2 separate regions of the Homo sapiens genome follow, and region 2 is linked to region 1. The links come from fine-mapping of genetic effects on gene expression. Tissue or cell type: whole blood. Region 1 holds a variant in brackets; the other region holds the start of a gene. All regions are shown on one strand. Distances are between the middles of the regions.

Region 1 (8,107 bases):
AGCTGACAAAATGAAAATGACTTAATTACCCAAGGTTTGGCATGTAAAGATCTTAAGAGGGGGCAGAACGAACCACTCGAAAACGAGTAGCAGTGTAATGAAGGCTTCTTTTTTAAACAATAACAAATGCTTCATCAATCTGAGTGTGGAAGGTGATTTATCAAAATAAATATTACTAATTTATTTTTTTATGAGTGCCAATTACAAATATCATTTGGGATAATAATAACTTAGTGTAAACATTTATATTTGCTGATCCAGCATGTCACCATTTATGGAGTAGCTAAAGGAGTTGAGATCATTGGAACTAGAGAAAAGAAGGTTGAGTGGAAGTTGATAGTGTAAGGTAGTGGCAATTCTCCCTTTGTCTTTAGAATTCTCACCCACTCCGCATATCTGTCATGGGAGCATTGTCCTGAATACTGAGTAAGAATACTGAGAAATGTTATGGTGTGCAAATGTACAGCTCCTGAAAGAGCAGAATGAAGCACAAGCAGTCACAATGGAAAAATATATGGCATGGCCACTGCCTCCTCCTTGCAATTCTCTCCGATCTTGGCATCTTATATGGCAACTATATGGCAACTTACAAGCAAAGGGGAAGATAAAGTAAAGGGAAGTGAACAATTTTCCAAACTTAGATATTCTGTTATAACAAGACACACACACACACACACACACACACACACACACGGGTCTCTATTTGAAGATGGCTTCACCACTATATGTGTGTATCTACATAGATGTAAACATTTAGAGTTGCTGTGAGCCTTCCTCAGGCATGTAGTCTTGCCCCCAAAAGAGGCGGCTGCTACCCAAGAGACTGTCGCTGTTCATTCATTCATGAAACACTGAAGGAGTACCATGAGATGATGTGCTGGGAACCGGAGTCCCTAACGAATCCAGGTCACAGTTTAGTGAGGGAAGCCTGCAAGGCAGTCAGCAGCCACATTTCAGATAGGGGCATGTTCAGGGTCCCGTGCAAGTGCCGAAGAGAGGCAGCTACTCAGCCTTGCAGGGAGAGAGCTTTCTGGAAGATGAAAGGTGCTAGTGAGCGGAGAAGGCTTCCCAGGACAGGAAGCTCCTGACTTTAAAACGAGTAGTTTAGTAAGTGGGTGGCGGGGCACAGGGCATTTCAGCAGGTGAGCAGCAAGTCCAGAAACCCTAGAGGTGTCATGAAACATGGAACCACCTGGGAATTGAAAGCAGCTCAGTATATTTGGAATGTGGGAGATTTGGGGGTCATGATGAGAGGTGAAATTGGAGTGGTAAACAGGAGCGGTATCATTAAGGATATCGGGTTAGGTGCTGAGTTAAGGTTTCAGTGTGAGAGTTTGGACTTTATTCTGAAGATCACAGAGAAAGATCATTTGTAAGCAGCATGGAAAATAGATTTGAAAGGTCAAGACTAGAAGTGAGACCAGTTTGTAGGCTATTTGGTTGGTGGGAGGGGATAGACTGGGAAAAGTCAAGCATGAATCCCAGGTTTCTGGCTCGGACGATGGGTAAAAGTGCCATTCATTCAGATAAGAAGTCCAAGGAGCAAGTGGGGCATTTGGTAAGCAAAATGATGAGGTTGGGTGCAGACACCTTGGGACACCCAAAGGGTGACATTCAATAATCAATTGGATATAGGAGGGAGATCTGGCTGGAGACCTGGATTTTGGAACTGTCAGCATGTAAGTAGTATTAATGCCTTGAAAGTAGAAGAGAAGACAGTCTAGAACAAAACCATGGGGGATATCAGCATTTACGGGAAGGCAGAGGAAGAAGAGCCCACAAAAGAGACTGGGAAGGAGAAGCCTGAGAAGAGGGAAAGCTGGAAAGAAGCATCTTGGATGCCAAGATCGGAGAGAATTGCAAGGAGGAGGCAGTGGCCATGCCAGATGTAGTGGAGAGGAGAGGGAAGTTAAAGACGGAAAAAACGTCCATTGGTGTTAGCAATGGAGAGTTCATTGAGGGCCTCTCCCACAGCAGATGTGGGGAAGCAACAGGGTATGGAGTTGAGTGGATGGAGTAAGGAATGGATGTGAGAAGGTTGCAGCCTGGAGGACAAGTTATTCGGCAGTGAAGAGGAGGAAACGGACAACAGGCTCGGGGAGTGATTTTTGGAAGATGGGTGGATGTAGCAAGTTCATTTCTAGTCCAAGGGCTGAGAGCCCACAGAGAAGGTGAAGGGAGGGGCCAGCTTCCAGAGCAATAAAGAGATTTAGGAACAATGAACCAACGCTTGTGGTCCCTACCTCATGGCCTCTGCTGCCTTTTGGAGAGGAAGGTAGTAGGTTATAGAGTTTCAAGAGAATGGTGTAATTTTGGAATATCTCTTGTGGGAAATGGGAGAAAGAGTTGAGAAAGAGCCCATGTAAGGATTTTCAAGAAACCCTGGAAGATTTTGTGCTCAGGAGCAAAAAAGAAAAGAAAAAGGTAGATTGTTGTACCAGGGTTAAGGTTTTGTCATGTGCGTGAGGTGGAAGGAATCAAAGGCCGAGGAATCTGGGAGAAAGCAGTTCCGATGGTGTCCGTGGGGCTAACGCATGAGGGAAAGACCCAGGTAGGAGGAGTGGGTAACAGGTAGGAGGAGTGGGTGACAGATGGGAGGGGGTGAGAGGGCTCGGGGCCCTAAAAGGGCAAGTGGCTGGTGTTGGTAGCAAGGGGTGGTCTTTCCTGCCTGAGTGATAATTCCTGAGTGATAATATGTTTCCCTTGAAATTTCGCTTCGATGTGTTCTTAGAGTGTTTCTTTTCTTCTCCTGTGTTATTATGTGAATAAATAGTAAGAGTGGCTGACGTTTGTTGACTGTTCCCTGCGTTGCAGGCACTGTCCTAAGTGCTTGACGTACATGAACTCATTTCATCCTCACATCCACCCATCGGTGCAGGTGCTATTAAGTTATCCCCATTTTAGAAAGGTGACAATCAAGAAGTTACACAGCAGTAAGTGGCTGTATCAGCTTTTTCTAGGTTATATTGTGATAACAAAACTCCCACGTGTCAGAGGTTTGCAAGAATGAAGCTTATTTCTGTTTACGTTTTTTTTTTTTGGTCAGCTGGGGTCATCCTGGACTCTGGCCTACGTGTCTTTGTCCTACTCATGGCCTAGAGAGGTAGGATGACCGTCTGTCCTGCTTTGCCCGTGGTAGTTCCAGACTATACCTGTCCCAGTGTAATTATTAATAGGTCTCCTTTGTACTCTTAGAAATGTTCCAGTTTAGATGATTAATATGTGGTCATCCCATTCAAAAAATAGTGAGTAAAAACGGTGGTGAGGAATCGTCACTTCTGGAAGGCTTCCTGACAGATAATTCCAGCAGTGGTAAGAATGGAAGGCATTTCTTCCTTCTCTAGTTTCCCAAGATCATTTTTTTCCCCAGGATAACCTGAGATTTTCCCAAGGTAAAATCCAAATAGAGACCTGATGTGCCACTGGCTCGGCCGTGCATGCTAGAATCACCAGCCAGAGATGAGGATGAACCGCGTGCCTTCAGGACAGGGCGGAGACGGAGGAGGAAAGGAGTGTGGTGATCCTCGGAACATCAGCAGACAGGCTGTTGATGATAGGAACACATTGCAGCGGGGAAGGAGGATGGCTGAGATATGAAATACCCTTCAAGGTGGACGCATACCCAGGGGCATGTCATTCGGTGGCAGGGGCCAGCACGGACATGCAGCACTGAGGCGTGTGCTAGCGCCCA[G/A]TGCGTCGACCCAGGCACGGACTTGTTTGGAGCATACAGGACAGCTCTGCGTTAAGACCTGTAAGCCATTAAAGAAGTACAGTCTGGTGAATGAACCCTAATCTCTTGATGATCAAGTGATGACATCATATTCTGTCTCCGAGGAGACACCCTCTTGCACAGAAGGCAGTAGAGGAAGCTTGCGTCGAGATTGCCTACCTCCCCAGCCCCACCTTCGAGGGTTCTTTCAAAAGTTCGGACTGATGTTCAACTTCACATCTTGTCTCAAGGCAATCCTCTCTGTTTAGTCTCATAGAGTTGGCTTTGTGGAATGTAATTCATTTTTATCTTTAGCACAAATTTGTCTGTTTCTTTTAAGGCCACCAGAAAGCACAACATAGACTCCCCACAGAAATCTCATTTTATCTCCTAAGTTGCAGAATAAACGTACCTTGTTTGCAAAGGGAACATTTTCCTTTACACTCAAATCACTTCAATGTGTATTTTGCCTCTTCAGCTCACTGACCTCGCCCGCAGCATCTGATGTAAGTCACCATATGCCATTTCCCGACTAGGAGAGTGCTTGGCCTCTTGTGCAGGAAGTTTGCTTACCCTCATGACTCCTGGCTTCCGCAGAGCCTGCCATACCCCACAGCTTGGCCGGGCCCTGTGGAAAGCCATCTCTATTCTCACACTGCTGGGGAAGGTGCATGACTCAGGACCCGACACACAGGCCTGAGAGTCTGGCGATCTTGTGCTCTGATCCCAGCTTCATGTGTGACTCACTCTGGATCAGGCGCTTCACTTCCTGTGCACCTCTGTCTGTAAAATAGAGAGCCCAGCTCTAGTCCTTCTCCCTCCTGAGAAGCAATGCAGAGATTTAGTCCCCTTTGCAGTCACCCAGTGTCTAAGTACCAAATGCCCAAGAGACAAAAAAGAGTCCAAGATAGCAGGCTAGTTGGGATTACGACTGTTCGTTAAGGGCAGGAGTATTTTCTGTGGGATGGAATGTGTTTAGATCTCTCTCTCCTAGTTTCCTGTCTTCCTTCCTTTCGCTTTTCTAAATCCTTCCATGTAAGAAAGTACCCTGTTTATACAGACAGTTCCTTGAAGATCAGTGTCACTACCTTACCCTCCTGGGCTGCTTAAATAAACGGAGAGCCTCATGGGTGCCAGGCATGGTGGCTGCCTCCTAGGCCTGCCTATTTCTGAAAGCATGGTTGCCAATCATCTGCTTCAGGAGCATCTGGAAGGAGGGTGTTAGAAATGGGAGGTGTGCCCCATTCCAGACCCCTGAAACAGAATCTCTGGAGGTAGGGTCCAGGAAACTTATATTTTTAATATTCTCAGGGGATCCTTATGCACGCTTGTGTGTAAAAAGCACTACCTGGGGCTCTGATATTGAATGAAAGTGTGGGATTTGGAGTTAGGCTCTGCTGCTTACTGATTACGTAATTGGCCCAGACATTTAATATTGCTGAGCTTCCCCGGAGGTCGAGGCTACAGTGAGCCATGATTGTACCACTGCACTCAGCCTGGGTGACAGAGAGAGACCTTGTCTCAAAAAAATAAAAAAATATTGCTGAGCTTCTGCATCTTAATTTGTAAAGTGGAAAAAACACTTTTCGGGGCTGGTGTGAAAATTAAATGAAATAATAAAAGTGAAAATGTTTAAAAAGCTGTAAGCTATGACACAAATAATTATTTACAGAAAGCCAGCTAGGCAGAGAGGGAGAGAGAAAAAGAGAGAGGGAGGGGCAGGGATGGAGATCTGCTGCCTGGGTGTGGACAGGGAGGTGGGGAAGTAGGTAAATAATAGAAAACTAATTGGAGAGAACGTGCGCATACCTGGGCTGCTGGTGGGGAGATAGCCGAGGTTTGCTGTCATGGTGCTATTAATTATAAGGCGTTAAGTTTATTTCTAGAATGTGAAAACAGGAGGCCTTAAGAGGTTTCTTTTTTTCTTCTTTTAAAAATGTGCTATCAGTCATGGTACTTTTAGAGCAGCAGGAATTATTTACCTCATCTAGTGGAGAAAACACTCTTAATCATTTGAAGAAACTGTTATTTTTCTTAAAAAAGAAAAATCAGGCCAAGCACAGTGGCTCATGCCTGTAATCCCAGCACTTTGGGAGGCTGAGGTGAGCGGTTCACTTAAGGTCAGGAGTATGAGACCAGCCCAGGCAACATGGTGAAACCCCGTCTCCACAAAAGTACAAAAATTAGCCAGGCGTGGTGGTGCACTTATAATCCCAGCTACTCGGGAGGCTGAGGCAGGAGAATTGCTTGAACCCGGGAGATAGAGGTTGCAGTGAGCCGAGATGGTGCCACTGCACTCCAGCCTGGGCGACAGAGCAAGACTCCATCTCACAAAAAAAAAAAAAAAGAAAGAAAAAGAAAAGAAAAGAAAAATCACAAGTTGAAAAATTGAGGCCAAACCTAGTTCTGTGGAGAAGGAGATAAGATAAAATAGCACACTATGAAAATCGGGCCATGGTTTTATATGTGTGGCAGGTCAAAATGCCAAATATATCTTGCTGGCTCCCCCCACACGCCCCGGCATTAAGTTTTCAGCTATTAGTAAGAAATCTCAAAAGAGGCTTCTAAGCATTTATCACCAAACTTAGGAAATGTACTGAAGTATAGGTGAGTATTGCATGACTTTAAATACAGCTTTTAAACATGTCAAGATGTGTTTCCATGCTCTGAATGCCTAGTTTTAAACTGTCTTGCTGGCTGGTAACCATTCCTGGTTACTAACTCAAGGTATGATCCGCACTTAGGCAAAGCTCACTGTTAATGAGAATAGAGGTAAGTCTATTTTCCAACTAGTCTTGATAATGTTTAAGTTTTCTTAGTTCTTCTTTATCAAATCCGATTAGCCTGTCTTTGTTCTTACACAACATGATGAAGAGCTCATCCTGGTGGAATTGTCGGCCCCACTGTTCTCGGAAAACCCCCCTGTGCTTAGGTGTTGGGATATCTTCAATTCGAGGTTACTTTTTAGGAACTTTTTAAGCCTCTTATCAGTTTTTGAGGACTGGTGTCATTAAAACCAAATAACATCTGCAAATCCTTCACTCAGTTGGCCACCTGTACGGTTAGTGATTGCACGGAAATAAGCAAGGTGGAATGAGTACACGAGCGAAGGCTCCCCGAGCTTCCTTCAGGACAGCCGCCTGCCTTCCTGATACGTGCATTCCTGGTACATGCATTTCTGCTGTATGGACCCCAGGAAGATGTCAATGAGATTTAACTCTAACACAGAACATAAATATAAATTAAAACAAATCCTGGTTTTCTTCCTGCACCCTGAGGAGTTATCTTGCGTTCCCTGCAGGGGCACCTCACTGTGAGATGGCTACGTTAGAGAATCTTCTCAGGAAGGGCTCTTTTGGAAAAACAATGTAAAGTGTAAAATACTCTAAAAATTACTAGAGTGGCTCCCAAGCAATAAAGAGAAATTGGAAAATGCCAGTAAACAAAAAAGAAGAGGAAAACCCCTTAATTCCACAGAAGTTAACCACCATTACTAATGCTTTGCTTCATCTCTTCTGAAAGCTTTTTCCAAGGATGTGTCTCTCTATAGAACTTCTTTAGAATAATATCACTGTGGAACCTATCAGTTAGGGTCCTTGACCATAAGGACAGAAAGCAGGACTCACTGGAAGGCACCTGGGCTGAGGAAAGAGTGCTCACAGAGCCTACTGGAGACTGGGGCACCAGGCTCAGGCCAACAGGAGCCAAGGGGGCATCTGAGGGCAAGGAAGCATGGTGCAAGAGGATAGCAAACATCACACAACCGGAACAGCCCGTGCAGGGCCGCTGCTGCAGGGGATGGCTTTGCACTGGCTCAGGTTCAAGGCCTGCAAGACACAGCCCACTGAGCTGAGCTCCGTCTGGCCTGGGCAGGCAAGGAAGGACCTTGCTTCTAGGCAGCCATGTGGAAGGCAGGAATCCTCCAACCACCAGCTACACCCCGCTGGAGGGAGAAAATACTCTGGTGAGAAATCAGGGTACTATTGGGGAAGAGAAATAAATAAATAATAAACACGACAATACTACAGGATCAGACCATATATGCTATTATGTAATCTGCTATTTTAAATGAATACATAAGGAACAATCTTTCCATGATAGTGTGTACTCACCTAAAACATAACTTTGAGTGACTGGATAGTATCTTATTGTTTGGAGATACCTTAATTAATTAATTAATTTAGAGACAGGTCTCACTGTGTCACCCTGGCTGGAGTGCAGAGGCACGATCATAGCTCACTCCAGCCTCGAACTCCTGGCCTCAAGCAATCCTCCCACCTTGGCCTCCCAAAGAACCGGGATTAGAGCCACCACACCTGGCCTATTTAATTAGTTCCTCATACTTCATAATTTAAATAATTTTCAGTTTTCACTATTATAATAAATTGTGACCAATAT
Region 2 (8,094 bases), 120 kb before region 1:
AAGGTGGGGTTTGGCGTCTGAGTGCTTCTGCCCAGGTGGAATGGGGCTTATTTCAGTAGATTTCCTTGCAAGTCCTTTAAACTTCTCGAAGCTTTCAGTTACATCTATTGCGCCTCGTGAAAACTCTAAAATAGGAAGTTTGGACATTGTTACTTCTATTTTTATGAGTTAATAAGTTTTAAAGAGATTACATGACTCGCCCAGGATCATGAGATTAGTAAATGGCAATGCCCAAGGAAAATCCAGTTTTTTTAAAAAAAAATTATTCCCAGTCCAGATTTCAATTATCTCCATATTAGGAAAGTAAACAGGGCATGAAGGATTTTTAAACTATCATTTTGCATTATTCCCACCACTTACCCTTTCCACTTCACTCACATCTTAGGTAACTGAGTCAACTGCATTCAAAAGAAACATTTTTGGGGGGAGAGGGGAGGGATAGCATTAGGAGATATACCGAATGTAAACGACGAGTTAATGGGTCCAGCACACCAACATGGCACATATATACATACGTAACAAACCTGCACGTTGTGCACATGTATCCTAGAACTTAAAGTATGATTAAAAAAAAGTAAAAATAAGTAAATAAATAAATTCCTTTAAACAAAAAGAAACATTTTCTGTGTTCCTCACGGACACATCACTGATGGCTGTCTGAACAGATTCAACTCACTATAAATTCAAGCATGCAAAAGGACATAACCTGTACATATCCACCTGGCTCCATAGAGTAATTAAGCAAATAAGTGTCATTGTCTAAAACTATGTGCTTGCTTTTCTGATTTAGCCCTAAGTTTATATATCCATGAGTGGGATCAAAAACGATTTTCCGATTCTAAATTTCTGAAAATCACGATGAGATGTTTAAGTGAAAAAATGCTTTGGCAGCATACAATATTACAAGTTACTCAAGTATTACAAGTTAACAAGTTACTCAAGCTATAGCTCAGAAGCCATATACATATATATGTGTATATATGTAGAGTATATATGTATATATACACATATATGTAGAGTATACATATACGTAGATGTATATATACTCTACATATATGTATACGTATACATATACGTATATGTATACGTATATGTATATATACATCTATCTATCTATCTATCTATATATATATATATATTTTTTAAGATGGAGTCTTGCTCTGTCACCCAGGCTGGAGTGCAATGCCATGATCTTGGCTCACTGCAACCTCTGCCTCCTGGGTTCAAGTGATTCTTCTGCCTCAGCCTCCTGAGTAGCTAGGACTACAGGCTTGCAGCACTATGCCCACCTAATGTTTGTACTTTTAGTAGAGACGGGGTTACACCATATTGGCCAGGTTGGTCTCGAACTCCTGGCCTCGTGATCTGCCCACCTCGGCCTCCCAAAGTGCTGGGTATACAGGCATGAGCCACCGTGCCCGGCCGCAAAATATATTCTGAGGAATAAAAATGATTGTAGTTAGTTTTCCACAGTCCAAAGCAAGCTAATAATATTTAAAGAGTTAAAAGTGTAATATAATCATCGGTCATGTTTCTACAACCAAAGAGAGTTGAAAGGAGTCAAATATCAGCATAATGCAGATAATGTACTCACTGGCATTGTGGGCCTTTATTATTTGGATAATCATTTTCACCTTGTGGAGACTTTTCCAGAATTATATACTTTTATGCCTAATCAGCAAATTAGGCAGTTGAAAAGTATGTATGAAGCAGCTAATATGTGCCCCAATTAGGCTAGGTAGTGTGGGTATATAAAAAGGGTTTATAAAGGGGGAGGCTCCTATTCAAACCTTAGTGGGGTCAGGAGATGCGGAAGTTAATTAACATATATTAAATATTTTTTTACTCACCCACACCTAGAGAAACAGTACTGTTTTAAATGTGCTGTAGGAGTTCAGAGAAATACTGATTAATGTGGTTTGGAATAAATTAAATAATAAAAAGCTTTGCTGAATACAGTTAGTTTAAAAAATATAAAAATATAGGGGGATTTGCAGAGAAATCTGTTCAACTCTTAAAATAATTTTTAATTTATATATGTTTATATAAGAATTCCATTTTATTAACATGAAATACTAGTACCTTTTTTTGGGGATGGAGTCTTGCTCTGTCATCTGGGCTGGAGTGCAGTGGCGGATCTCGGCTCACTGCAACCTCTGCCTCCTGGGTTCAAGCGATTCTTCTGTCTCAGCCTCCCGAGTAGCTGGGATTACAGGCGTGAGCCACCACATTCGGCTAATTTTTCTATTTTTAGTAGAGATGGGGTTTTACCATGTTGGCCAGGTGGGTCTTTAACTCATGACCTGAAGTGATCCACCCGCTTCAGCCTCCCAAAGTGCTGAGATTATGCGTGAGCCACCGCGCCTGGCCCAGTACTTTTACTGATGAAAAATGTAATGTAAAAGGAAGGTCTGTCTTACATACAATAAGTGCTGAATCTGGGTCTTTTTTAAAAAAAGTCATTGAGAAGACTTACTCCTTTCTTAAGTTTTAAGACATTTATTATTGCAAACAGAAAAATTGTACTAGATACCGGGGATATATAAACGAATAATGCCGTTTCTGTCTTCAAGATCTTACTGTTTGGTAGGTGGAAATAAAGTGAACGAACGAAGGCACTGCAAATCAATGTGGGAGGCTCTATAAGCATGGGGCCACAGAGGAAAAGGCTGAGAGGGAAAGCTTCAATGACTAGGTGACTTCAAAAAGGTCATCCTGGCCAGGCACAGTGGCTCACACCTGTAATCCCAGAACTTTGGGAGGGCCAGGCAGGCGGCAGATCGCTTGAGCTCAGGAGTTTGAGAGCAGCCTGGGCAACATGGGGAAACTCTGTCTCTACAAAAAATACAAAAACTAGCCAGACATGGTGGCGCGCGCCGCTCCTCCCAGCTACTTGGGAGGTTGCGGTGGGAGGGTCACTTGAGACCGGGAGGCGGAAGTTGCAGTGAGCAGAGATCACACCACTGCACTCCATCCTGGACGACAGAGCGAGACCCTGTCTCGAAAAACAAAAGACAAAAACAAAAACAAAGGTCATCCTGCAGGACAACCAGGAGGGCACAAATGTGTGTCTGTGGGAAGCTGAAATGTTGGCGGGGGAAAAAAGCAGGGAAAGGCATTCCAGAAAAAGGAAACTGTAAACAGCACACGAAAAAGCATAGTGAATGAATAGGAAGCCTGAGACCAAACTTAGGGTTTCCTACACTTATTTCAAAGCCCTTCATTATCTATATGGAAAGGGGGAGTCTTTAAACACAAATATTTAGATCATATTGACTGAGATTTAGATATAAATGAATGCTAATAATTACTTTTCGTTATTTTGGGGTGTTAAACATTTACTGTACAAGATTGTATTCGTTTTAAGTATCTTCTAACATGAGCCATTTTGTAATGATTCAGTTGTTTATATTCAATTTCAAGTAGAATGCTGATCACAGCGCCAAATGGGTATCTTCTACAGAAAAAGTTATTTTAATAAAGAAAAATATAGTCAGTTTTAGGATTTCCTGAGAGATTATAGAAACAATAAAAGCATTAAAACTGTTAAGTCATTAAATACGAGTACCTTGTATTTTGAAGGCTCTTAAAATTTAGTTTATAAATTGCTTTTACATAACATATGCACTGAAATACCACTTAAGATTAGTTTTGAAAATAGGTGTTCGTTTCAACCACATCATTAGGTATTTTATTCAAAGCTCTTTATAAAAAGAGCTTTACTATGTTCCAGTATAGTAAACTTATCCAGAAAATAAGACAAAAATTTAACTTCATGCTATAGCTGCAAAGTTTTCGGAAAGCGGGATTTAAAACTTCCATTGTAACTTTAACTAGCGGTCATGTCAAATTTCACAACTAAGAACATTTTAACGCATGTAATACTGAGCACAACATGGGCACGTTTTTGTTGCTATGAGAACCTTCTATTTTGTATTAGACATTGCAGCCTTGACGACGCAATGTTTGTGCTATTTTGCGCATGTTTTCCTGCAGCTATTCCTCTCCTCTAGCAATAGTCGAATGGCTCTGGTTTCCTCTTGCGCCCGGCCCAGTTTTTCCGTTTTAGCTTCGGTTGTCATAGGCTGTGCTGTCGCTTTCTCTGGGAAAGGACGGTGAAGACTGGACGGGAGAAACCGGGAGGGCAGGCGCGGCCGTTCTGCAGCAGCCGGGCCGCTTCCCGGCGGGAGGCGGGCTGCGAATGGGAAGCGGGAGGAGGAGGCCGGGCCGCGGGCTGGTTCTATCACCCCCTTGGGAGCCCAGCTCTTCACCTAGCTCTCCGGCGCTTTTCAAAATCTGCAGTTAACAACAAAAATCGAGCAACGCCACGTCGCACAAACAGGACAGGAGGGGGCGAGGGGTGTGTGCGCGCGCGTGCTGTCCCCAAATGGATGAGAAATAAGGGAAAGGAGGGGTTGGGGACCGTGTGATGAAGCAACATGCTAGGCCCGGGACAAGTCCGGCTCCGGCCTCGGGTCTGGAGGGACAAGGCCGGGGGCCGGGTGGCAGACGGGGCCTCTGGTCTTCCCCCAGCGCGAGGGTCGTGGCGCGAAACGGGGACAGGGCGCGCGCTCGGAGCCTCCTCCCCGCCCCGCCCCGCCCAAGGGTCTTCCTCCCCCGGGATTCAGAGCGGCCCCTCCTCCAGGCCAGGCTCGCCGCGGGGCGCTGAGCAGGCCGGGACACCGCGGCCGAGGTTATCGTTAGGCATCTCCCAGGCGACCGGCTCCGCAGCAAGATGGCGGACGAGAAGGACAGGGAAGGTAAGGTAGGGGAGCCGGGGAGCCGCTGCCCTCGCCGCCCGCCGCGACCCCGGGCTGCACGGGGAAGCGCCGGGTGGGGTGGGCCCTCGTCCATCTGGAGTTCCCACCCGCAGGGAAAGGGCGGCCTGAGGAGGGGGCCACCCGGCAGCAGCAGTCGCCCTGCCCCCGTCCCCGTAGCCCGCCCGGCCCGCCGCTCCGCCCCGCCCCGCCCCGCCTCTCTCCCCCGCCCCGCCCCGCCTCTCTCCCCTCTTCCCTCCCTCTTCTCTCTCCCCTCCTCCCGCCTTCTTCTTTCTCCTCCCGCCCTCTTCACCCTCTTCCCCTCCTCCCGCCCCGTCCTCCTTCCCCCTCCCTCGGAGGCCGGGCCTTGCATCCTGCGCGGGCTGCGCCGGAGGCGCCGGCAGGGGGTGCTGATAATGGCGTCGTTGTTCACGGTCGCGGGGAAGCCGCCGCCGCCTCCACACTCTCGCCTGGGGTCTCGGTGCCGCAGGCGCCACGCCCGTAGCTGTCCAGGCTGTGGGCCCCGGGGGGTGGCCTGGGTGAGGAGGAGTTCTGGCCGCCTGAATCTGACGGGATCCTCTGTTTGCGCCGAAACCCCGCGCTGGCGCAGCCTGATGGCGTTCGCGGCCACCATTTTGCCTCCTTAATGAGGACGCAGGAGGACGGTCTGGAGGTCACAGCCGCTGCCTCCGAGCTTCCCGGTCCTCCGAAATGCCTGCCCCGCCGCCGGCTAGCGCCGCGCAATTGGCCTAGTGTCTTGTCTTAAAAAAAAAAAAAGACACACACCCAAACAGCAATTTTAATAACGACGAAAAACCAAAACCTGGTTGAGATCTTGGAACCGCTGTGCGCCGGCCGGGCCTCTCCCAGGGGACCACCCAGCCCCGCGCGGTGGCCGCCTGCAGAGGCGGGACTGCGCTTCGAGGCTTAAGGTCGCCAGTTCGGAGGCATCGATGTGTTGTCTGTGCGGAGAAGCCAAAAAGTGATTACGTTTATTTGCAAGACCGTTCATGTTGTTTTCAGTTCATGGTATGATTAAAACCCGATCCTTTGTTACCATGCCCTTAGGTACTAAAAAATAATTGTGTTTGATAGTTGGCAGTCACCCAAAAATATCCAAAAAGCCATGAAACAGTAAAGGTAAACAAGTAGGAAGTGAAAATAATATTCGTCCTTTGTTTTCTTTCTGGAGTGCTCAAAACACCCTCTCAAACCATTTTTCTCAGCATAGAACCAAGTGTGGTCAGGTTAACAGCTAATATTTACAAGGGAAGAAACGAACCCTGAGATATTTAGTCACTTGTTCCGGTGATCACAGAAAATCGGCGAAGAAACACATGAAACTGCCAACGATCTCTCTATTGATAACAAGGATACCGTGATTTTTATGTAATATTAATCTGAGAAGCCAGGATTATTTTGTAGGTATTAGCTTTACGAAGATGCCCTTACATACAAAGAAAAGGATAATTTTAAAACTTTCCCAGAAAAATGGATGGCTTATTTTTGTTCTTTACCAAAAAAAAAAAAAAAAAAGCCATTAGGAGATAAACTAGCAAGGTAATTATGGATATTTATTTTCTTAAAAAAGACTTGGTTAGGTCAGCATGAGAAAAAACGCACTGGAGTATGGTACAAATACAGTATTTCTCGTTTTTTAAAAACTGAGAGCTTTCCTGATTTTTCAGCTTTTGAACAATTTTTTTCCATTTAAAGTAAATTCAGAGAAACAATTTTGTCGATAACTCATAGAAGTAATGACTGTTAAAAGCTGGATGCCATTCATTCAGAATACATATATTCAATGCCATTATGTAGATAAGGCATTCTACTTAGAACTTTGAAAGATACGAAAATGAAAGACATTGTCTTTGCTTCCAAGGAAGGTGAGATGAGTAAGGGAGATGAGAAATTTACAAATGGGAGGAAATAGTTAACTGGGCTGAGTAGTCTGGGTGCCAACCACTGTGCTAGGTGTGTATCCTTGTAGTCCGTGGACAGCAGCCTGGACATCACTGGCTGCCACCGACCTAATAATGAATCAGTCTTCATTTTAACATGTTTGTAGGTGATTTGTATGTACATTAACTTTCGAGAAGGCCGGGCGCGGTGGCTCACGCCTGCAATCCCAGCACTTTGGGAGGCTGAGGCGGGCGGATCACGAGGTCAAGAGATCGAGACCATCCTGGCCAACATGGTGAACCCCGTCTCTACTAAAAATACAAAAATTAGCTGGGCGTGGTGGCACGCCCTGTAGTCCCAGCTACTCAGGAGGCTGAGACAGGAGAATTGCTTGAACCGGGGAGGCGGAGGCTGCAGTGAGCCAAGATCACACCACTGCACTCCAGCCTGGCGACAGAGTAAGACTCCGTCTCAAAAAAAAAAAAAAACAAAAACAAAAAACAAAGTTCGAGAAGCACTCATGTGCTGTATCTCATTTATTGTTAACAGTTTTATGGATTAACTAATTGCAGTTTGTGAAGGGTATTATGAAATAAAGGCATTTTGTTAGAGGATAAACTAAGTAGAGACTCATTTTGGTGGTAAGATCTTTTTATGGAAATAGTCTATTACTATATTTGATTGTCAGCTACTGTATTTTGAATTTTCAGAAATTACGTCTAACCAATTAATCAGAATTGATTAAGTTTTGAGGATTCACTCAACTAAACTCATAAAAGACTGATGTGCAAACCTGAATGATTTATTAATTTAAATAAGGGTATATACATTGACTTGAAGGCTGATTTTGCCAATATACTAATATAATAATTTTGGCAATATACTAATATAATAATATACTGTTTTATGGGTACTAAGCTTCGGGTAGTGTGAATTTGTATTTCAGAAGTCATTTGATGACCGTGGAATCACACAAAAGAAAGGATAATTTTGAAGGATGTGTTCAGTACCCTCTAAGTTCCAAAAGATCTGGGACCATTTCTGATCTGTTAATACTGAGTGTTGTGCAGAGTGCTTGGAACGTGGTAGGTAATCAATAAATATTTGTTGAATTCAGAACATTTGAATTAATCAAAGACAGCTTATGAGATTTTAACCAAAGCATTCCTAGCTATTTTCCCCAAACTTATTCTATACCTAAAAGTACACAAAACTCGTTTTAGGTCTCTTTTCCCCTCTGCTTTACCGGTAAGATACATTCTTCTATTCCATCTGGCTCAACAAAACGTTTTATTTCACAGTGCCACGGTATTCACTAGCATGTCTTTAAAAAACAACTACAAAAAACCTCATTGTAGAAATACACATATGTTTTAAATAGTTCATCCTTAATATTGAGATTTCTAAAAGTTCTAAAGGGGGAATAAGTTTCAGG

The links. PIP is the estimated chance that this variant, and not a neighbour inherited with it, causes the effect.
Region 2: DRC8 starts here. The variant in region 1 is fine-mapped to the expression of DRC8 in whole blood (TOPMed, PIP above 0.99).

Annotation. Positions count from the first base shown.
Region 1 is chr1:245,087,657-245,095,763 of GRCh38, forward strand. It overlaps DRC8 (dynein regulatory complex subunit 8), which reads left to right. Exons shown (of 8, transcript NM_032328.4): 8 at 1-181. Among named protein-coding and RNA genes, the nearest start is that of KIF26B, 63 kb to the right of the region's middle. The variant G/A (reference allele first, on the strand shown) is at 3,692.
Region 2 is chr1:244,965,684-244,973,777 of GRCh38, forward strand. DRC8 (dynein regulatory complex subunit 8) reads left to right here and starts at 3,999. Exons shown (of 8, transcript NM_032328.4): 1 at 3,999-4,360; 2 at 4,646-4,760. The coding sequence starts at 4,736. LOC124900416 reads right to left here and starts at 4,887. Exons shown (of 4, transcript XM_054328428.1): 1 at 4,643-4,887; 2 at 4,572-4,641; 3 at 1,290-4,569; 4 at 1-125. The coding sequence starts at 4,854. The coding sequence ends at 4,303. It overlaps EFCAB2-AS1 (EFCAB2 antisense RNA 1), which reads right to left and starts at 5,186. Exons shown (of 2, transcript NR_111907.1): 1 at 5,129-5,186; 2 at 1-4,296. RefSeq lists enhancers at 2,349-2,853, 5,292-5,661 and silencers at 4,062-4,201, 4,472-4,651, 4,662-5,021, 5,032-5,121.